3 linked regions of the Homo sapiens genome follow. The protein of the gene in region 2 purifies or fractionates together with the protein of the main gene of each other region. This does not show direct contact. Each region holds a gene or a part of one and is shown on either strand. Other genes may lie near its edges.

Region 1 (7,597 bases), on a different chromosome or scaffold from region 2:
GTTGGGTATAGAACAACCAGCACAAATACACGCAGCAGCTCTGCAGACACCCCATACAAACAGATGAGAAAGCGCTGTGGATCGGAAGAGCGAGGGCCCAGGTTCCCTCAGTGCTCCCCACAACAATTTTAGTTATTTATTTTTGAGACAGGATTGCCCAGGCTGCAGTACAGTGGCATGATCATGGCTCACTGTAGCATCAACCTCCTGGGCTCAAGTGATCCTCCCACCTCAGCCTCCTGAGTAGCTGGGACTACTTGACGCATTTTCCCACACCTGGCTAATTTTTTCTATTTTTTTGTAGAGATGGGGTCTCACTATGTTGGCTGGTCTCAAATCCTTGGGCTCAAGTGATCCTCCCACCTCAGCCTCTCAAACTGTTGGGATTACAGGTGTGAGCCACCATGTCCGGCCCCCCACCTCCCTTTTATCCAACACAGAGGGTCCCGAGGTGTCTCTGTAAACCCCTATAGTGTCAAAAGGAAAGAACTGAAAGGCCATAGCTATGGTGCCACCAATTCCATTTGTGTACAGATTGGGAAACTGAGGCCTAGAGAAGTCAAGGCACTTTCCCAGGCTATAGTGCAGGTCAGAGACTGAGTCGGAATAGAATTGAGGTCTCCTGTACTGTGGGTCCCAATCTACAGGGCCTACTGCCTGCATGCTTGATTGTCAGTGGAGCAGGGTCGGGGGAACGATTTTCTGGGCAGTGCCATCCCATCCACTCCGGGCAGGCTATAATGAGTTGAACAGGGTTCCCCCCAAAACTCATGTCCACCTGGAACCTCAGAATGTGACCTTATTTGGAAATGGGGTCTTCGCTGCTGAAATTAGTTAAGATGAGATCATAATGGATTAGGTGGGCCCTAAATCCAATGATAGTTGCTCTCCTCTTCCTATAAGGAAGACAGGTACACAGAGAGAAGGCCGTGTGAAGACAGAAACAGAGCCTGGAGTGACGCAGCTATAGCCAAGGATGCCTGGAGCCACCAGAAGCTGGGAGAGGCATGGAAGGATTCTTCCCTAGGGCATCTGGAGGGAGCTGGCTCTCCCAACACCTTGATTTTCGATTTCTGGTCTCCAGAACTGTGACAGAATACATTTCCATTGTATTCCAGTTTGTGGGAACTTGTTGGGGCTGCCCCAGAGAAAGAATACCCAGACTCACCTTGTAGTCATAGCCAGCACTGAAGAGGATGTTGGCGGCCGTGGGGTGCCACTCCACCAGGCCTACTCTGCGCGCGTGGCCCACGAGTTCCTTCCTGTAGGCCGTGAGGTTCCTGGTCAGCAGCTGCTTGGGGATGCTCCAGATCTTAATCTGGCAGGGGAGACAGGGCCCAAGGCAGCATTAGCCAGGGCACCTTGGCACCGTCACCAGCCTAAGCCACAGATCTGGCAGTGACCAGCAGAAGGACCAAGGGAGCTCTCTCCATAGCCACCTCCCACTCAGTGGCTATGGGCATTGAGGGGCAGTGGAGGGGCAGCTGAGGGTCCTCAGACAGACAGGGGCTTCCCCAAGCTCCTCCAGCCTGAGCAGGGGCCAGCGCTGACCAGGGATGAGTCTAGGCCTCCAAATCTGCCCTTGAGAGATCTTTGTCATCCTGCTGGCCTGAGGTGGTGGGCAGGTGGCTGGGTTTCAGGCCTGTCTCCTAAGCTAGGATATCCCCAAAGTACAGTGTTCTTCTTGTCCCAAAGACCCAGGGTAGAGCCTCAAATGCCAGGATGAAGGGTTTAGGCTGCATCCTCAGGCACTAGGGAGCCGGCGAGGTCTCTGCAGCAGGGCAGGGACAAACTTCTTGCTTTGGAGGTGCACCCTGGATGGCCTGCAAGAGGAAACTCTGAAGGTCAGGAGGCTGGGCTGGATGGGGTCATGGGCCTGTATTTCATGGTGAGGGCCTGAGAAGAGGTGCTGGGACTTCCTTCCAGAGTAGTGTTGTCTGAAGATGGAGGGGGCTGCCATGGCAGAGAGTAAGCTCCCTGTCACAGAGGTATACAAATGGAGTACAAGGTGATCCTGGGATGCTGCTGACTTGATCTTCCTTATTGGTCCTGCAAGGTTCTCTGGCCCCTAGTTGATTGTATGCACTGTTTCCCTTAGAGGTATACAGGTTTTTCAGGTAGACGACTTTGCTTTCAATTCAGCAAATATTTATTTCCTGGTCATCTTGGATTTAAAACCAGGAAGCCAACCCCACGAGAGTAGTGACAGGCTCCAGATACTTCGGTCTGATGAGGGCTGTCACTGCATAGAACCCCGGGAGGAAGACACACTCTGAAGAGGTATGTTTGGAAGATGAAGGTACCACCCGCAACACTGAAGCAGAGAAGACTCCCCACTGCTAGAGGAGCAACCGTGCCCTCCAGGCCCTGAAGGCAGGGAGGAACACCCCATAAATTCACTGTGGGCATAGCTTCGGGGAGGAAAGCCCCTTCCTTCTTCAGTCCCCCAACAGTCACGTCCTGCCCTGGGGCATCGGGGAAGGGGCAGTGGCAGGCAATGAGGCTAGCAAGAGATTTATAAAGATCTTGATGGGAGCCTTCAAAGCAGTCCTGAAAAGGCAGGTATCACAAAAGTGGGGACAGTTTCAGATATTTGATATCCTGCCAGAGGCCCTATACTCCCTGGGGACAGGGCCAATTCTCACAGGACCTGATTGTCCCTTTGGTGAAATCACCTCGGCAGACACTGTCCTTTACGTTCCTCAGCATCTGCTATATGGAAACCGACACAAATCCTCTTTGAATTTTCTGCCTTCCTTTCCTGATGAACTGGTCTGCTTCTTTTGATCTAACTGAAGGTTTTGCAATACATTCTGTTGCCCATTTTGCCTTGGCTGCCAGGTAGCTCTTAGCTAAACTAGCAGCTTAGCTGCTGCAACCCTTCTTAGCCATCATTTCTAGTATTTCCTCAGTTTCTCCATCTGTGGCTGCTTCTCTTTAAAGATGTGTCACAGCACATTGGAAAGAGAATGGGCTGTGGAATCAGACAGGCCTCAGTCTGAAGTCTTGCTCTGCCTCCCACAGGCTGTGTAACATTAGGCAAATTGCTGTACCTCTCTGATCCTCAGCTTCTCCATCAGAAAAATATCCTACCTTGTGGGGTTGCTGGGGAGACTGTGAAATGATAAGTGTGATGACAGTTAGGAATACAGTGGGCTCACAATAAATGGTGACAATGACTTTTATCTTTATTTTAATCATCTGATCATATCTGTGTTTTTTAATTTTTTAATAGAGACAGGGTCTCACTATGTTGCCTAGGTTGGTCTCCAACTCCTGGCCTCAAGTGATTCTCCCACCTCAGTCTCCCAAAGTGCTGAGATTACAGGTGTGAGCCACTGAACCTGGCATATCTGTGGTTCTTGTCTTAAGCCATACCACCATATTTTAGAAGTGGGTACAAAATGAATTGTAAATAAGTAACACTGAACATTGTTGGGGCAGGGATGATAACCCTGGTACAGAACACGGGCTCAAAAAAGTGAGTGAGACTGAAGCTGCTGGAATGGTTTTAGTGTCCACATTCATCCAAGGCCCTCACAGCCTTTTATAGCTCGCTTCCTCACTATGGGATTAAGTGGAACATCTTTTCTGATCACCATAAAAATGCCCCTCATAGCCTTTTATAGCTCCCCGAAGGATGGGTTTTCCCATCGGAATATACATTTTCACTGGGCTTTATTAGCTGGGTGGAACTATTATGCCCATTTTATATGGGGGGGAACTAAGGCCCATAGAGAGGAGGGGTGGTGCCGCTAGTCCTACAGCACCAAGAATGTCTCCTCCTCTACCTTAACTTAACACCTCCCCACACAGTGACCTCACCTCCGCGATGGAGTCAGGGGCACCAGAGCCAAGAACAGGTACCATTCCACCCCAACCACCCCAATCCCACTCTTCAGGAAGGGGAAGCCCCTCAGGGGCTGACACTCACTGTGGCATCTTCAGAACAGGAGGCGATCTCAAAATCATCAAAAGGGTTCCACTTGACATCCAAAACGTTGCCTCTGTGCCCGCAGACTTTTGGGTAGTGGGGGTCCAACTTCCCTGTCTGCAAGACAGTGCCCAGGAGGGTTGGGGAGGAGGTGGATTCCACATTAGCATCTGGACAGTCACATAGTCAGTTAGCAACCAGTCAACAGGAAAACATAAGGGACAGAGCTGGGTGTGAATCTAGGCCTTACTTCTTATTCCCTGTGGGATCCTGGGGGAGTTACTTCACTTCTCTGAGCTCTGGTGTCCTCCTCAGTAAAAGGGAGCAATCACAGGTATTTCACAGGTTGGTGTGAGGATCATGGGAGAGGAGGTATGGCACAGTGCCTAGCACATGGCAGATGTTCAATAAAAGGGCATTTCCCCTCACACACTGCTGGTAGGCATGTAAAATGGTGCAGCTCTTTTGGAAAATAGTCTGGCAGTTCCTCAAAAGGTTAACCGGTTCCCACATGACCCAGCAATTCCACTCCTAGGTCTATCTCCATGGAAAATGAAAAGATAAGTCCGCAAGAAACTGTTTCACCTAATCCCAGCACTTTGGGAGGCCAAGGTGGGTGGATCACCTGAGGTCAGGAGTTCGAGACCAGCCTGGCCAACATGGTGAAACCCTGTCTCTACTAAAAATACAAAAATTAGCCGGGCGTGGTAGCATGCACCTGTAATCCCAGCTACTCAGGAGGCTGAGGTAGAACACTTGAACCTGGGAGGTGGAGGTTGCAGTGAGCTCTGATTGCGCCATTGCACTCCAGCCTGGGTGACAAGAGTGAAACTATGTCTCAAAAAAAAAAAAAAAGAAACTGGTTCACCAATGTTCACAACAATATTCTTCATAATATCAGAAAGTGGAAACAACCCAAATGCCCATCAAGTGAAGAATGGACATACAAAATGCAGTATATTCATGCAGCAGAATACTACTGTCCCTAAAAAGAGGAATGAAGTACTGGTCCCTGCTACAGCATGGATTAACCTAGAAAACACTAGAAGAAGAGGCCAGGCACAAAAGGCCACACGTTGTGTGATTCCACTTAGATGATGTTCCAGATGTGGTTTCATTGCCTGAGCACATTAATGCATCCCCCTGGTACCTGGTATCTGGAACCCTAAGTAATGCATATGAAAAATGCAGAACGGGCTGGGCGCGGTGGCTCACGACTGTAATCCCAGCACTTTGGGGGGCCGAGGCGGGTGGATCACGAGGTCAGGAGATCGAGACCATCCTGGCCAACATGGTGAAACCCTGTCTCTACTAAAATACAAAAAATTAGCCCGGCGTGGTGGTGCACGCCTGTAGTCCCAGCTACTCGGGAGGCTGAGGCAGTAGAATCGCTTGAACCCAGGAGGCAGAGGTTGCAGTGAGCCAAGATCATGCCACTGCACTACAGCCTGGCGACAGAGCAAGATTCTGTCTCAAAAAAAAAAAAAAAAAGAAAGAAAAATGCAGAACGATACATTCATGGAGACAGAAGGCAAGATTCTGGTTGCCTCAGGCTTGGGAGAAGGGGCAATAGGGGGTGACTGCTAATGAGTGAGGGGTGTCTTTTTGGAGTGACAAAATGATTTTGAAATTAGGTGGTGGTGACAGTTTATTCACAGTATATTCACAACCTTGTGAATATACTAAGATCCACTGAACTATACACCTTAAAACGGTGAATTTTCCAACATGGCAACAGGACAAAACCCCGTCTCTACAAAAAATCAAAAAATTAGGCCTGGCATGGTGGCTCACGGCTGTAATCCCAGCACTTTGGGAGGCCAAGATGGGTGGATCACCTGATGTCAGGAGTTTGAGACCAGCCTGGTCAATATGGTGAAACCCCACCTCTACTAAAAATACAAAATTAGCCGGGCGTGGTGGCACATGCCTGTAATCCAAGCTACTTGGGAGACTGAGGCAGGAGAATCACTCGAACCCAGGAGGTGGAGGTTGCGGTGAGCTGAGATTGTGCCACTGCGTTCCAGCCTGGGCAATAGAGTGAGACTCCGTCTCAAAAATAAATAAATAAATAAATAGCCAGGCATGGTGTCGCACACCTGTAGTTCCAGCTACTTGGGAGGCTGAGGTGGGAGGATTGCTTGAGCCTGGGAGGTCGAGGCTGCAGTCAGCTATGATTGTGCCACTGCACTCCAGCCTGGGCAACAGAATGGGACCCTGTCTCAAACAAAAAACAAAACACGGTGAATTTTCTGGTATGTGAATTCTACCTCAATTACATAGAAAGGGCATTTCCCTCATTTTCCCCTTTCCTAATGAGAATTCCTGTATAGGTGCTGGGAGGGACATACAGGTCCCCCAGCCCATGCCACACAGCCCTGAAGCTATTTCCAACTCCACCAAGAGACTTGGATTTCTTGGGGTCATAGAGAAACCACACCAGTTCAGTCACAGAACCTTGGACTGGCAGTGACCAATCTGCTCATTTTGCACATCACATTGCATGGCCCTGGCAGAACAGGGACCAGGACCCAGGCCCTCGACCTCCCACATCCACCATCTAGTTCCAGGTTCTTGAGCCACCCACCAGAATGCTCCCCCAGCCATTTTTATATCTAAGTGAAAGAGACAGCTGAGAAGAAAACTGGCCAACATCCATCCATCCCACAAATATTCCCGAGGTGCCCAGGGGACAGGTGCTGTTGGAGGGGCTGATTGCAAGGTGAACACTCAACATAGTCCTTGACTTTGCAGAATCAATAGTCTTGGGATTTTTTCTAGAGGGACTTTCAAGAACAGGGTGGACTCAGGGAACACCCAACCTTCTCTTCTTCCATCACCTCCCCATCTGTGTAGAGACCACTGTACTTGTTTTTTTTTTTTTTAAGAGACAGGGTCTCACTCTGTTGTCCAGGCTGGAGTGCAGTGGTGCAATCATGATTCACTGTAGCCTCGAACTCGGGGTAAGACAATCTTCCCACCTCACCCTCCCAAGTTCCAGGCTAAGAACTACAGGCATGTGTCACCAAGCTCAGCTAATTTTTAAAATTATTTGTAGAGATGGGGTCTTGCTATGTTGCCCAGGCTGGTCTTGAACTCCTGGGCTCAAACAATCTTCCCAACTTGCCCTCCTAAAGTTAGGGATTACAGGCATGGGCCACCGTGCCTGGCCTATGCATGCATTTTAGTAGCTCTGCAAACAGAGGAGGTGGTCCTGTGCCTCCCTCTGGAAATACTCTGGCTAATCCAGGTCTCTCCCCTCAGGAAAAAGTGATCAGACACCTCCGCCTAGACTGGATCCCCTACTGGAGGGGACAACGCTATAAAGGACATTATTTAACAAATCTAAACAAGAACGGTAGATTACAGTATTATCACAACATTAAACTTATATAAGTTGATAATGTACTGCAGTAATGTAAGAGAATATTTGTATTTTTAGGAAACAGTATTTAGGGATGAAGGGCTAAGATGGATGTAACTTACCCTCAAAGAGTTCTGAAAACAAAAAATTATACACACACCTACACATTCAGAGGGAGAAAGAGAACCAAAAAAAAAGGAAAGAATGTGGACTTGTGTCCTTTGTTAGTGATGTGCATGGAGGGAGGTGAAAATTTTCTCTCTTTCAAGTGGTCTCTGCCTCTTCTACAGCAGGACAGG
Region 2 (8,196 bases):
TAGGCATAACCCAAAACTTTCTATAGCAAATGGAGTATAAAAGCATCCTTTCTTTTCCTCCACTTTTTGATATCTTTTAATATTCAATTCAAAACATTCTATTCAATTTCAAAGCATTCTTCCAGGATTATTTTGAACATCAATAATAAATCAAAGTTAACATTAAAGAGGCCGATTAGGTTTGAAAAAAAGACAGAAGAACTGAAATATGCTTAAGAATAATTTATTGAAATGACTGGAAAGGAAATAGATTCTTAAAGAAATAAAAATAAGCACAATTCCAGAAACAATTTGTATACATATGTTTGATATGTTTGTAGCATTTCCAAATGAGTATTGAACTTCTGTGGTACTAGTTGAATTAAGATTTGGAAAATGTAAATAGTTCATGAGTCAAATTTCAAATTAAATGAATGACATAATATATAAAATAAATAAAGGGACAAAGTTCATTTTTTCCATATAAACTCATTCAAACATACTTAATTTGGGGTAACGTGATACAAAGACGGAAAAGGCATCATATTTCCAGTCTCAGTCAATTCTGTGGAATAGAGAGCAAATATATAATTAGTTATGTTATAACACGTAACTATTCAACTCTCTTCACTTTTAACTTTGGTGTGACTAATTCACAAAAGAAATTGTATTGCAAATGCATTCTGTTGCGGTTTGGAGGCATGTAAAGTTTGTTCACCAAACTTCACCAAAGTTCATCAAATATTAGTGAACTTGAAATTGTTTCAGTGAAATGTCTGGTATTTCATAATCCCAAAAGGCTTTATATCTTAGAATTGCAATGCTGTTCTCTCCTCTTTTTAACCTTTACACTTGGAGTAATTTTAACTCATGAATTAAAAGATAATTTTAAGTAAAGTAAATACAAATTTTATGAAGGCTAGGTTAGAAATAAAAATGCAAATAGGCTTTTGACAAAAGCTCAAATGTATTTCCATAAAAGTAAAATAAGTATATATTCTGTCTTTCCTAAAAATAGTGATAATCAAATGTAAGTATATAGGCCCTTGAAAGCAAGCCAGTCAAATCTGTCAATAGTACATAAATAAAATTAAAGTTATTTGAAATGCAAAAGATAGATAGTTTCAGGTCAGTAAATGATAGTCAACCATTAAATTGATAATTAATAAAAAAAGTTCTTGTATGTATGAAATTTTCACTGTATTGGACTTCTCTAGGAGAATTAAATGTAAAAAGACATCATGTATAAAAATGATCAATTAAATCTCCAAACTCCCAAAACTTACCAAAAATAAGGAGGGAAAATTAACTTTGAAATCTTCTTAGACCTTAAAAATAAACAGATACAAATAAATAAATAACCTCTTAGTAAGAAAACTTGCCTTAAGAATGTTGTAAGTAGTGAAATAAGCATCTCCGTCTTTTGCCTTCATATATATTTACAGCAAAAACCAGATGTGAAGTAAGGCTTGTGTAAAATAAATAAATAAATAAATAAATAAATAACCTCTTAGTAAGAAAACTTGCCTTAAGAATGTTGTAAGTAGTGAAATAAGCATCTCAGTCTTTTGCCTTCATATATACTTATAGCAAAAACAAGATGTGAAGTAAGGCTTGTGTAAAAGAGATGTGCACAAGGAAAATGACAGAACATTTTTTAGCTTTTTTTTCCAAATTCAATCATATTATTAAATTTAATTCCGGCTTTTGTAAGCCTTAATTACTTTATCTAAATCAGAATTCTCAACAGACTAATTAAACCAGAATTCATGCAATAGTTTTTTTCTCAACACTCAGTTTCCTCTACACAAAAAACTAGAACAATTATATCAGAATCTCTGGGTAAGCTTAGGCATTGGGATTTGTGGGGAAAAGTTCTCCAGGTGATTCTATTGTATAGGTAAGCATTAAGAATCACTTATCTATGAGAACACATGGACACAGGAAGGGGAACATCACACACCTGGACCTGTCGTGGGGTGGGGGTAGGGGGTAGGGATAGCATTAGGAGATATACCTAATGTTAAATGACGAGTTAATGGGTGCAGCACACCAACATGGCACATGTATACATATGTAACTAACCTGCATGTTGTGCACATGTACCCTAAAACTTAAAGTATAATAATAAAAGAATCACTTATCTAAACTGTTTTTTTAATTCATTTACTCTACATTTATTCTTTTATTCTACCATCACATACACATCTTGAATGAAACAGCAAAGCCAGTAAATTTGGACTTACACTAATGGGGTTATGAACTGGGGCAAGTGGCTGAGTCACAGGGTAGATCTGGTGGGTGGGGTTAAGTAGAAGTTCTTGGTTGAGCAGAAGGGCTTGAACAGGCACAGCTCTCTGAGGGTAGGGCACCACTTGCTGGGGGATAGGCAGGACTTTGGGCTGAGGAACAGACCACAGGGGCTGAGGGGGAAGTGCAAGAGTCTGAGGAATAGGCTGAGGGACCTGCTGCATCAAGGGCTGGAGCAGAGGCAGAGGAAGATGCAGATTTTCAAGATCAGTGAGTTTTGGGATTTGAGGGTCAAAAAAGGGTATCGTTGGAGATTTAAGGACAGGCATCACTCTGCCCTTAGTGTAGACAGTGTCTTTAGCTTTAGGGACTTCCATTATTTCAGGCTGAGGGACAGGCAGCACCACAGCAGGCTGAGCAAGAGGCAGAATGTTTTGTGGAAGAAAACCATAGGGGATAGGTTCAACGAATGGATAGATCAGAGGCTGTGGCTGGAAAGAGGGGTAGATTTTATCCTGGTGTTCATCCTGGAAAGAAGGAAAAAGAATCTTTGAGTCCTTGATTAAGCTATAATTGCCATTCATAATGAATTCATTTCTCTCTTTTAGACAATGATAAATGAGTAAAAAGAGAGGAGAAAATATTTCACTTATTTTGGTTAAGAAAGTATCTTGAGTCATGCGAAGAAAAATGAGTAAACTGTTTGTTGAAAAATTTTAATCCACTCACTTCATGGGTAACTCCACAGGCCAAAGTGAAATCAATGTTTGGATATTTCAGAAACACTTTTTTTAACATTTTCCTGAATTGCCTGGATAGCTGTAGCTGTACACTTTGGTCTTCAGAGAGAATTTACTTTTCAACACAGTTGTGCCAATAGTAGACCAAATTGTTTTCATACAGTGAAAAGAGATCAGTTTAAAAAGACTTAGAGGGACAATTCCAAGGTTTATTTTTGTTTTGTTTTGGTTTGATGAAAAAGAAAATCAGTCTTAATTTGTGGCTAATCTCAGGAAGTAATTTAACACCGGCCAAATTCTTACATTCCTTCCCTTGGGAGAAGATAGTCTCTTGAGTCTTTCAAGAGACATCAATTTTTTTGTTTAAATTTGATTTTAGAAATATTTTATGTGACTCCAAACAATTCATTGGTACACAAAGCAATTGAAAATTATAATTGGGTAAACATATCACCATAAATGTAATTTAATGAAATACAGGATTTTGTGTTGTCCATATGGGAATAAAGGCAATATGGGACAAATTTTACATAGGTTTTTTTACCAGCCGTATACACCTTTTCATTACCATATCCACCTTGGAAATAAGAGGATCATAGTTCCCAACCTGGAAATGTTCCCACCAATGTGTACTTGTTGAAAACAGATATACCATTAGTAATATCATTATGTATTTAGTCTGTATTCTAGAAATTAATTATGAGTTTAAAAATGCATGCATATCCTAGAAAATATATTGACTTTATCAATGTTTAATTTTTAAAGTGGTTGGTGGGTATATGGCATTTATTTTATTATCATTCTTTAGAATCAACATACACATTATAAATATTTTTGTATGTATTATACTTTATAATAATTTTAAACATATACTTATCATTAACAAATTACCTCTCCTTGCTGCTGGTCCTCATGTTTAACCTTCTCAACTTTCTGCTAAAGATATATCATATATAAAGATATGTTACCATCTGTAAAGATTAAAAGGAGGAAATTTTGAAAATGTGTACATTTTAAATGTGAAAATTTACCTTGTATTCTGTAATAGATTCCTACAGAAAAATATAAAATAAAATTAGGTTTAGTTTTAACAATTCTTACTTTGCAATATAAATCAGGAAATAAAGGCATTAATTCTTTGATAATATCATTAATAACTTTGTATAATCATTAAACTTATGTATTAAACTGTTCTATATGAGCTTGTTATGTAAAAGAAAGTCAGATGAATGCAGTCAAGAAGGACATGGTACAAAAAAAAGCAATTAATAGATGCTAATTTCTCTCTACCACCATGCTCATTCCCTGACAACAAATGATATCTAAAACCCCATCTGATTTTTAAAAAAAGAAATACTCATTGAAAATATATTCTAATAACAATTGATACATTATGATCACTTCAAATGAATCATAAGAGTTAAACACTTCCCTTAAGGATCATATAACCTTTCTGAAGAGACAGAATCTATTGATGTACCATTTACTTATCAAGTGATCACACACCCAAGAAGAGTGGTGTAAGAATAAATATCTACCTGACTCTCTCAGGTAAATTTAGGACTACACTAAATCTCGCTTATTTACTAAAGTGGCTATTGTAATTATAAAATGTGTCCTTTTTGCACGTCTGCCTACCTACTACTTAGCAAGCTCTTAACTATCACTGGCATCTCTAACTTTTCAGTTTGTACCACAGCTCCTAGTCAATGTCTGACCCATAGAAGGCCGTCAGTATATGCTTAAGGTGAATAAGTTCAGAGTAAAGAGAGTTCAAGGCAGAAAACAGGACAATATGGTTCATTAAAAAAAAAAGAAGCAAAATAACACAATTTCAAGTAGCAAGCCAATTTACAAAGTTCTAGAATGTTGTATTATCCAGATACTTATTGTCCTTAAACACACATAAAAGAAATATGTACTAGAACTTATATGTCATTAACATAGCTGCATTAGCTTAACTGCCATGATGTAACACCATAGAAAAATAGCACAGGATTTTACTGTTCTAAAATTGGGTAGAATGTTAACTTACCTCACTGCTTGAAAGGCTTTCTATGGTCTGTGGGAAAAAAAAATTGACAACCAGCTAAATCTTCTAGATCATTAGAGAATTTTACTATTTTATGGTTCATAAATTTTCTCTAAAAAAATAATCTCACCTCAGAGGATGCATTGGATTGTTCCTTCTGAAAAGATGTTTAAAAATTCAACTTCTATAGCTAACTCATTGTTAAACATGCATCCTACTTAATTTTTACATCACTTATGCAGAGCTATCTCTTTCACAAATTTGAGAAATAAAAAATGTTATATGACTTTTGAGGTTTAAAAGGTAATTACTTTAATGTCTTTTATATTTAGTAATCTATTAATATATTTTTATCTTACATTTATTAAAGACAGAGTTTTTTATGGGTAAAAGAAGAGTCACTTTAATTTGTATTAAATATTTTTATTATATTATTATTAATATATTTATGATCATGATTATGATTGTCTCTGTACTTCATCCCATGGATGTCTTTGTACAGACAGACACAGGATTTGACCCAGTGCCCTAGGCTGTAAGGTATATATACATTTTATCACTGGAATAAGATATATTTATCTAGCTTGAGAATCTTTGGAGTTGTATTTATGCAATATTATATTTCGTTGCCATTTTTATGATTTTTTATTACTTATTGATTTGTTTGCTTTTTCTTTAGTGACTAGCAGCACATTGGTGCAGGAAGCATTTGGGGCACTATAGGAAACTGTTGAGACAGTGGGTAAATATAAATGATTTTGATAGAAGCCAAGAGAATTCTCATGAAATTCTTCATTATTTATACAGTAAAAAATGTTGGTGATGTTATTCTCTACAAATAAGCATATAGTCCACTATTTATTGATTGTTTAGGAATTTTTTCTTGTGCACATACCTCCCTTGCAAGAGCAAGAGCCACCAGGCAGGCGAGGATGAGGACCTTCATGGCTACTAAGTCCTGTGAATGTAGAAAAAATGGAATGGTGGAAGATTGGTCAATTGGATATACTTTCTTATGTAGGTAAGGTTACTTTTTATAAAACAAAAAAAAAAGAGAGATAATATATAACAAAAATATCTGCATTTAGAAAATAAATAGAATAAATACTAAATAGAAGTTATATCACATGAAGGAGGTCAAAATCCATTCTGGCTTGCGATTCTCATTTTTCAAATTCCAAACTTCATTGCCAGCTATTCAGATTTTTCAGCTAACAACTCTATCCCCACTTTTAAAAAAGTCCCATTTACAGTATTGAATTTTTCAAAAGGCATAAAGAAGTTATAAATATGTATGGAAAGATTTATGCAACACATCAAAAAGCTTATCCACCATGATCAAGTGGGCTTCATCCCTGGGATGCAAGGCTGGTTCAACATACGAAAATCAATAAATGTAATCCAGCATATAAACAAAACCAAAGACAAAAACCACATGATTATCTCAATAGATGCAGAAAAGGCCTTTGACAAAATTCAACAACACTTCATGCTAAAAACTCTCAATAATTTAGGTATTGATGGGACATATCTCAAAATAATAAGAGCTATCTATGACAAACCCACTGCCAATATCATACTGAATGGACAAAAACTGGAAGCATTCCCGTTAAAAATTGGCACAAGACAGGGATGCCCTCTCTCACCACTCCTATTCAACATAGTGTTGGAAGTTCTGGCCAGGGCAATTAGGCAGGAGAAGGAAATAAAGGTCATTCAATTAGGAAAAGAGGAAGTCAAATTGTCCCTGTTTGCAGATGACATGACTGTGTATCTAGAAAACCCCATCGTCTCAGCCCAAAGTCTCCTTAAGCTGATAAGCAACTTCAGCAAAGTCTCAGGATACAAAATCAATGTGCAAAAATCACAAGCATTCATATACACCAATAACAGACAAACAGAGAGCCAAATCATGAGTGAACTCCCATTCAAAATTGCTTCAAAGAGAATAAAATCCCTAGGAATCCAACTTACAAGGGATGAGAAGGACCTCTCCAAGGAGAACTACAAACCACTGCTCAAGGAAATAAAAGAGGATACAAACAAATGGAAGAACATTCCATGCTCATGGGTAGGAAGAATCAATATCATGAAAATGGCCATACTGCCCAAGGTAATTTATAGATTCAATGCCATCCCCATTAAGCTACCAATGACTTTCTTCACAGAATTGAAAAAAACTACTTTAAAGTTCATATGGAACCAAAAAAGAGGCCACATTGCCAAGTAAATCCTAAGCCAAAAGAACAAAGCTGGAGGCATCATGCTACCTGACTTCAAACTATACTACAAGGCTACAGTAACCAAAACAGCATGGTACTTGGTACCAAAACTGATACCAAGACCAATGGAACAGGAAAGAGCCCTCAGAAATAATGCCGCATGTCTACAACTATCTGATCTTTGACAAAGCTGACAAAAACAAGCAATGGGGAAAGGATTCCCTATTTAATAAATGGTGCTGGGAAAACTGGCTAGCCATATGTAGAAAGCTGAAACCGGGTCCCTTCCTTACACCTTATACAAAAATTAATTCAAGGTGGATTAAAGACTTACATGTCAGACCTAAAACCATAAAAACCCTAGAAGAAAACCTAGGCAATACCATTCAGGACATAGGCATGGGCAAGGACTTCATGTGTAAAAGACCAAAAGCAATGGCAACAAAAGCCAAAATTGACAAATGGGATCTAATTAAACTAAAGAACTTCTGCACAGCAAAAGAAACTACCATCAGAGTGAACAGGCAACCTGCAGAATGAGAGAAAATTTTTGCAATCTACTCATCTGACAAAGGGCTAATATCCAGAATCTACAATGAACTCCAACAAATTTACAAGAAAAAAACAAACAACCCCATCAAAAAGTGGGCAAAGGATATGAACAAACACTTCTCAAAAGAAGACATTTATACAGCCAAAAATCACATGAAAAAATGCTCATCATCACTGGCCATCAGAGAAATGCAAATCAAAACCACAATGAGATACCATCTCACACCAGTTAGAATGGCGATCATTAAAAAGTCAGGAAACAACAGGTGCTGGAGAGGATGTGGAGAAATAGGAACACTTTTACACTGTTGGTGGGACTGTAAACTAGTTCAACCATTGTGGAAGTCAGTGTGGCGATTCCTCAGGGATCTAGAGCTAGGAATACCATTTGACCTAGCCATCCCATTACTGGGTATATACC
Region 3 (7,145 bases), on a different chromosome or scaffold from region 2:
ACTTCCTTTACAGAAGTCACCTGGGGTTCAAAAATGAAAGTAAAATAATCTGGCAATTGTGAAAGCTTTCTGAAAATCTTTCTCCTCCAAAGTCCTAAGGAAATTTAAACCAATCATGCCCATGGTCAGATGAACAGATTTTAAGTAAATCTAAGAACATCCCTTATTATTTTTTATTTTGTTTACTAGAACATATTTAAACGAACTGAGAGTCCAGAGAAAGTAGGTTATTATAGAAAACATTTCCCTTCGCCCTTAAAATCACTGGATTTGGGTTATTCACTTTGAAGTTCTACTATGATCCAGTTTCCCATCAAAAGGGAAGCACTTTTAGCCACTGAAATCTAAGAGGACTTTCTTCAATGGCACCCAGCAGAAAAGGAAAAAAATGAAAAGGAAAAAAATCTTCTTGCATTTGAAACGTTATTAGTCTTACATGAAAGACATTACCTTCCAAAAAACAATAATGAAGACTGACTAGTTCAAGTCAGAAACCCAGGTTTGAGGTTTCCAAGGCCCTTTTATTAGGGGAAGTTCCCCTTTATAGCACAAGACTTCACAAATGTGTTGACAACAATCAGATTCATTTCTTAAAATTATGGAGAAAAAAGGGAAAAACAAAACAGATGCACTTTTTATATATATTGAACATAAATTAAAAGAATTTATAAAACAGCCACCTTTTTACAGAATAAATGCAGACTGAATTATAAATGCACCTCCACGTTGAAGTTGTTTTGAGTTGCTTTTCATTTTCCAATAATAAATAAATAGAATTTGTTCTTGAGTTTTAGATCCACCTGAGCCACGGCAGGACTCTAAGTCATGAATGGGCTTTCTTCCCTTGGTCGCTCCTGTGCGCAGCATGTGAGTGTGCTGAGGTTACAGATTTCATTGGCCCACCAGCGTGTATGCTATCCTTTCGGGGTGGCATTCGCTCATTAATTCGGTCCAGACCTCGCGCTTCTTCAAAACTCCGGATCTTGTGCTGAAGCGAGAACCCTCTGATGGCTACAGAAAAACAGGAAGCAGGTGGAGAGAGCTCAATTAGGCAGCAAAGCAACAGGCTTAAAAAAAGTTTCTTAGCACACAGCAACCTCCTAGAGAAACACACAGAAAGGTGGCTATGGAGCACACGTCTAGTGAAAGTCATGGGCAATGTCTGACTGAATCAGTCTTGGCTGCAGCTACTGCTTCCTTAAAGCCCAAAGGGCAGCTGAAATTGTGAAAGTAATTTTCATAAAAGCTCTATATGCATAATCATGGTAGACATATACCTAACAAAAAGCTAACAAGTACTTACTGGGCCCCAGTACCTTTAAGAAAGAGTGTCTTATGCACCAGAAACATACTCAATGCTAGAACAAAGGCAACACTAGAATAATTGAACAAGTTAAACCCAGGGTAGTTGCTTTTCGCACAAAGGCCACATAGACCACAAAAAAAAGTAACAAAAGAGCTAATCTTTTCGTTTAGGACAGCTTTCTATCTTGCACAACCAGGAGCTGTACATAAGTTAAAAACTTAAAAATAGCTTCTACATATTTTCCTTCCGATTCAACTTTTATAACACCAAGTTAAGGCATTCGCGTTTTGAACCATCTTACCTAATAAAACAATTACAAGTATAATACAAGTTTATCAGTTCCAATGGTTTTCATAGAAACAAAGTTAATTTAACTTGCCTACCTTAGGGCAACCTCAGAAATGAATTGAACTAAATTCCAGTCTACTTCTGCCTCTGCTCTTGAAATCTTTTAGAATCGCTGAAGAGGCTGACCTATTTGGCTCTCTTGAGAATCAAATGGATGTCTCTTGTACATGGAAGGGATACAGAAGTAAACCACTTGACCTCTCATGACCAGTTGCTTAAGCTTCTGCCGTTGCATTAAAGCTGATAGAGCCCAGAAAAAAAACTGTAGCTGTGGTGAAGGTTATTTAAAATTAATGCAAAGATAGGACACAAAGGAAACACCTGCTTCGTTAACATGCCTAGAAACAACTATACCTTTTCTCACTGTTATAGTTCTGGTGATGCAATAATAAAATATTTGAAATGTTGATAAAGCTTCGAAAAACCAGTACACAGACACATGGATCACATCTATCAGAGTAATATGGCCATACCTTCCCGGGCCTCTACCGCTTCTACTGTGGCTGTAAGAGGGCAGGAGCAGTAGCATGCAAAAACGAAGACAGAAAAAGAGTGAGTAAACCAACAGCACTGATGGCAGCACAGCCATCCCAGGGGCCCGTTTTTTAGCCTATCCCCATCCATAATGAAAGTCAACTAGTTAGAGAAGCGAGAAGATTATTGCGAGAGACTCAATTGGGGTGGGAGGAATATGGGGTGGGGGAGAGTTTCTAATATTTTTAACATTTCAGGTGCCATGGAACATTGCTCTTTTCATTTTAGGTAGCCAACTGCTACTTTATATCTTGATATCCACGTATCGAAACAACATGTAGAATCAAATAGTTTGACATCACAACAATCCTTAGTTTGTAAAATATCTCAGGTGATATTAAATGAGCTACTGCTGGGTCCTATTCAAAAAGCTTATTTACAACTACATCTTACTGCTCTCAAGTGACTTATTTGGAGTCCAACTGCCCTATTAATTACTTCATTTAAAAAAAAAAGAGTGGCCTTTGAACAGCAGACTGGCATTTGGAAGGAGAGAAAAATAGGTTCCATGTGAAGGGTTATTTCTTGTCCAGGAGTGGAGTACAAAGCTAACAAAAGCATAGAACTATTGAATTCCTAATGCAAATGTGTGTACCCATCTGCTATAAAAATATAGCAGAGGCTAATGTTTCCAATCCATATGGCTTCCATACAGTGTTCAAGAGAGTTGGCCAGTAACTAAGAAAGCCCTCTTCTTTCTTAGCAATGGAAAAGGAAGCAACTTAAAAATTAGTACCAACAGGTAAACTTCCTTGCATCTCCTTTCTCAGACAGTAAAAACGCTAATATATGAAAAGGTACAGGGTGCCACAAGAAAGATCCTATTAGGAGAACCCTGTCAGTTACTCCAGTACCAATTTGCCAAAAGAAGGCAGTGAAGAATAATGAGCAGTAACAGTTTGCTGCTATTCCCAAGGCTTTATATATCAATATGAGAAGAGAAACTGAAAGAACTACATTAACTACCTAATGGAATGTGAAAAATGGATAACTGAAATCTACTTATGAAGTGCTTTCATTTGTCAACCATAGGCAGGCATGTATTAAATCACTGTCACACCCTCTCTAATCTCCTTAAGTAGAACAAATACCCTTGACAAGAAAGCTACAGTGCCTTCTCACAGCACATCACTGATGTAACTGTTAGGAAGTGGGAGAACAAAGCATTGCTGAAACTCTACACTGAGTGTTGGTCTAATTAGAGCTTAAAAGCTACACGGTAAAATGTGTATGATATTACCTTGTTTGGGGCCCTCCCAGAATTGCTATTCACATTGGGTATAAAGATAGCAGCCTGCAGTAAGGGCCATTATAAGAAACAGTCATATCAAATGACCCGAACTTTTGTTTTCCTTTTTAACATCTTAACTGAAATAGAATTCATATACCACAAAACTCACTTGTTTAAAGTATACAAGTCAATGGTTTTAATATAGTAGAGCTGTGCAACCATCACCACAATCTGTGCTTAGAATATTTTCATTGCCCCAATGAGAAATCCCCCACTTATTAGCACTCACTTCCCATTTCCTTCCCTCACCTCTTCCCCTTAATCCTGGTTGAACACGAATCTACTTTCTCTCTAGATTGGTCTGTTCTGGACATTTCAAATGAGTGGCATCATATAATATGTGGTCTGTAGTGACTGACTTCTTTCACTTAGCATAATGTTTTCAAGGTTCAGTCATGTTGACATGTATACCTGCATTTAATTCCTTTTTATGGCTGAATAGTATTCCATTGCGTTTACCACATTTTGTTTATCCAGTTTATGGACAATTGCTTTTTTCTGCTTTTTGGCTATTATGTTGAATGCCATTTATGAACATTTGTGTACAAGTTTTTGCGAGGACATATTTTCATTTCTTTGTGGGGTATGTAGCTATGACTGGAATTGCTGAGTAATAAGTCAATTCTATGTTTAATCATTTGAAGACCTGTCAGAATGTTTTCCAAAGCAGCTGTACCATTTTACATTTCCACCAGCAGTGTTAAGAAGGTCCCAATTTCTCCACATTCTCATCAACACTTCTTATTAACTGCTGTCTTTTCACAGCCATCCTACTGACTGTGAAGTGGTATCCCATTGTGGTTTTGATTAGCATTTTCTGAATGTCTAATGATGTCAAACATCATTTCATGTGCCATTTGTATGTCTTCATGGGAAAAATGTCAATTCAATTCTTTACCCATTTTTAACTGGGTTGTCTTCTTATTCAGTTGTAAGAGTATATTTTCTAGATACCAATCTCTTAGGAGATATATGATTTGAAAACATTTTCAACCATTCTGTGGGATGTCTTTTCATTTTCTTGATAGTACCATTTGCAGTACAGAGTTTTTAATTTTGATGTAGTCCAATTTATAACTGATCTGTTTTAATCTGATGGTCTTTGTGAATCTTGTCCTGTCCTTGGCTTTCCCCACTATTTTGGCTACTGGGATGCTTAGAGTCAAATTTGTGGCTATTGGCTTTATTTTTATTTACCTTTGTGCTTCAATTTCCAAGCATATTTATTTTACTCCACTATGTTTCATGTATACTGTAACTCACGCCAATCCCTCTTAGATCAAGGTGAGACATACATGAATGTATGTTACATGGCCATATGGGATACTGTTGGTTGAAAGCTCTCCAAGTTAAGTTATATGAACAATAAAAGGTCTTTTTTAGTTAATGCTCCAGTTAGCCAATGAGCTGGTGGAACTGAGACTCCAATGTGAAAATAACAAAATAAACTCACTTCCTGTGAATCAATAAGAATAAGAAACTCTAAAAAGTTGGCTCCAACTTTACCTTTGTTCTCACACATTACTGAAGATTTCTATCAACTTTGGAAGTATCAATCAATGGTCCTATCTTGATTAAAACACTCATATTCAACTCATACTTTGGGGCTGAGCCCAAAAGGTGACCAAGAATTAGAAACAAATTTCCAAATAACATAGCTATATAATTCTGTTGCTCAGCCCTGATTTGCAGATTTGCTTTCTCAAGGTTTAGACAAAGTTGGTTTCAATTAAAACAATTTTGTGGATCAGCAAATTTTCATAATGTTTACCTAAGGATGCTATAGGACATTCCTTTTTTTCTCTTAACTCATGTTACTGCCTATTACTCTATCTTTGTTGTCAGAGTTGCTCTCGGAATATCTCAGATGACTAATTACCAAGCAAAGCAATGGTGGGAACATATTCTGCTCACAAAAAACTGCACATTTATTTGAGAAAAATATTCAATCGGAAATAGTTTACTGATACTTTCTGTGAAACTAAAGGAACTAGGAAAATAAACTATACTTCCAAAGAGAAAATGTTCAGACTTCCTTCTAAATAGCTGAACTCTAATATCTCAGTATTCTATTTGAAAGAGAAGGAGGAATTCAATCTTATAAAAAGAAAAAAGGGCTGGGCACGGTGGCTCACGCCTGTAATCCTAGCACTTTGGGAGGCTGAGGCGGGCATATTGCCTGACCTCAGGAGTTCCAGACCAGCCTGGGCAACATGGTGAAACCCCATCTCTACTAAAATATAAAAAATTATCCGGGCATGGCGGTGTACGCCTGTAGTTCCAACTACTTGGGAGGCTGAGGCAGGAGAATTGCTTGAACCTGGGAGGCGGAGATTGCAGTGAGGCAAGATCGTGCCACTGCACTCCAGCGTGGGCAACAGACCAAGACTCTGTCTCCAAGAAAAGAAAAAAAATGGGTTTGTCCCTGTTAGTCAATAGCAATGAAATTTCTACAAAAGAAAAAGGACTCCTATAAATGGCAGGATGGCCAGGCACAGTGGCACATGCCTGTAGTCCCAGCCACTCGAGTAGCTGAGGCAGGGGGATTGCTGGAGCCCAGCAACCGGGCGCTGCCATGAGCTATGACAGTACCTAGCCATTACATTCTAGCCTGGGCAACTCTGTCTCTTGGGAAAAAAAAAGAAAAAGAAAAAAGGCCAGATGAACGATGAGGTGGGAAAAAAACTAAATAGAAACAATTCAACAAAACAAGGGGAGCAAAAAAAGCAGTTAAACTTTAGTTTAAGATATTAATGCTTCAATACCAATTTTCATACCTAGTGTTAGTCACCCAGTAATATGATCTCCTGTCTCTTCCCCTTGCATGTTTATTCTCACGAACATCAACCTTTTCATTCCGGGATTCCAGAAAGCCCTTTCCTAAGAAGTCAGCTCCTGGGTAAATTTCAGAATTGGTACTCTGATTGAAGAGGTGATTTTGGCACTGGAATAGAATATGGCTGCAGGGAAAGAGGCAAACTCCCTCTCTGATTGAGAAACTGCAACCCCCTCAAACTGTTTTCTTTAAGGTACAAAATATACACGAGGCACAGCAGGTGCACAAATCTGAAGTGTACAGCTCAACACATTCTTACATAAGTATACGCATGTCTAACTACCACCATGATAATGATACAGAACATTCCTAACACTCTAGATGTTCCCTGTGCCCTTCTGGGACAATATTCTCCCACCAGAGGAAGTGACATTCTGACTTTATTATCACTGATTAGTCCAATGGTTCTTAAATATTATATAAATCAGACAGTCTGTGCTCTTTTATGTCTGGCTTTTGCAGTTTTCTGTAATGTCTATGAGATTCAACCATGTTGTAGCATGTGTCCATAATGTGTTATTTTTTATTGCTGAGTATTATTCCATTGTATAAATAGAATACAGTTTATTTATTTATATTTCGGAATACAATTTATTTATGTAGTCTGCTACTGATGGACATCTGGGTTGTTTCCAGCTTTGAGCTATTATGAATAAAGCTACAGTGAACATTCCCATGCATAACCTTTGGTGAACACATCCAGTTTCTCTTGGATATACACCAGGTGTGGAACTGCTGGGTTACAGGGTAGACATATGTTTAGCTTTACTGCCCAGTAGTTTTCTAAAGCGCTTGAATCAATTTACAAGCCCTTTAGCAACATACCTAGT

What was found.
Region 1: the proteins of CSN2 (region 2) and CORO2A purify together in Homo sapiens (affinity purification with mass spectrometry; 2 studies listed by BioGRID and IntAct, with this or other methods). This does not show direct contact.
Region 3: the proteins of CSN2 (region 2) and PPP3CC purify together in Homo sapiens (affinity purification with mass spectrometry; 2 studies listed by BioGRID and IntAct, with this or other methods). This does not show direct contact.

Annotation. Positions count from the first base shown.
Region 1 is NC_000009.12:98,133,638-98,141,234, forward strand, and holds part of CORO2A (coronin-2A), read right to left. Parts: intron 4,052-7,597; coding exon 3,935-4,051; intron 1,319-3,934; coding exon 1,169-1,318; intron 1-1,168.
Region 2 is NC_000004.12:69,955,049-69,963,244, forward strand, and holds the end of CSN2 (beta-casein isoform 1 precursor), read right to left. Parts: intron 5,960-8,196; 5' UTR 5,948-5,959; coding exon 5,897-5,947; intron 5,032-5,896; coding exon 5,005-5,031; intron 4,022-5,004; coding exon 4,001-4,021; intron 3,906-4,000; coding exon 3,861-3,905; intron 2,757-3,860; coding exon 2,226-2,756; intron 1,308-2,225; coding exon 1,302-1,307; 3' UTR 1,266-1,301; intron 545-1,265; 3' UTR 208-544; downstream 1-207. UniProt on the Homo sapiens protein: Important role in determination of the surface properties of the casein micelles.
Region 3 is NC_000008.11:22,534,481-22,541,625, reverse strand, and holds the end of PPP3CC (serine/threonine-protein phosphatase 2B catalytic subunit gamma isoform), read right to left. Parts: intron 2,158-7,145; coding exon 2,128-2,157; intron 1,895-2,127; coding exon of another isoform or gene 1,758-1,894; exon of another isoform or gene 1,690-1,757; intron 1,012-1,689; coding exon 824-1,011; 3' UTR 501-823; downstream 1-500. UniProt on the Homo sapiens protein: Calcium-dependent, calmodulin-stimulated protein phosphatase which plays an essential role in the transduction of intracellular Ca(2+)-mediated signals. Dephosphorylates and activates transcription factor NFATC1.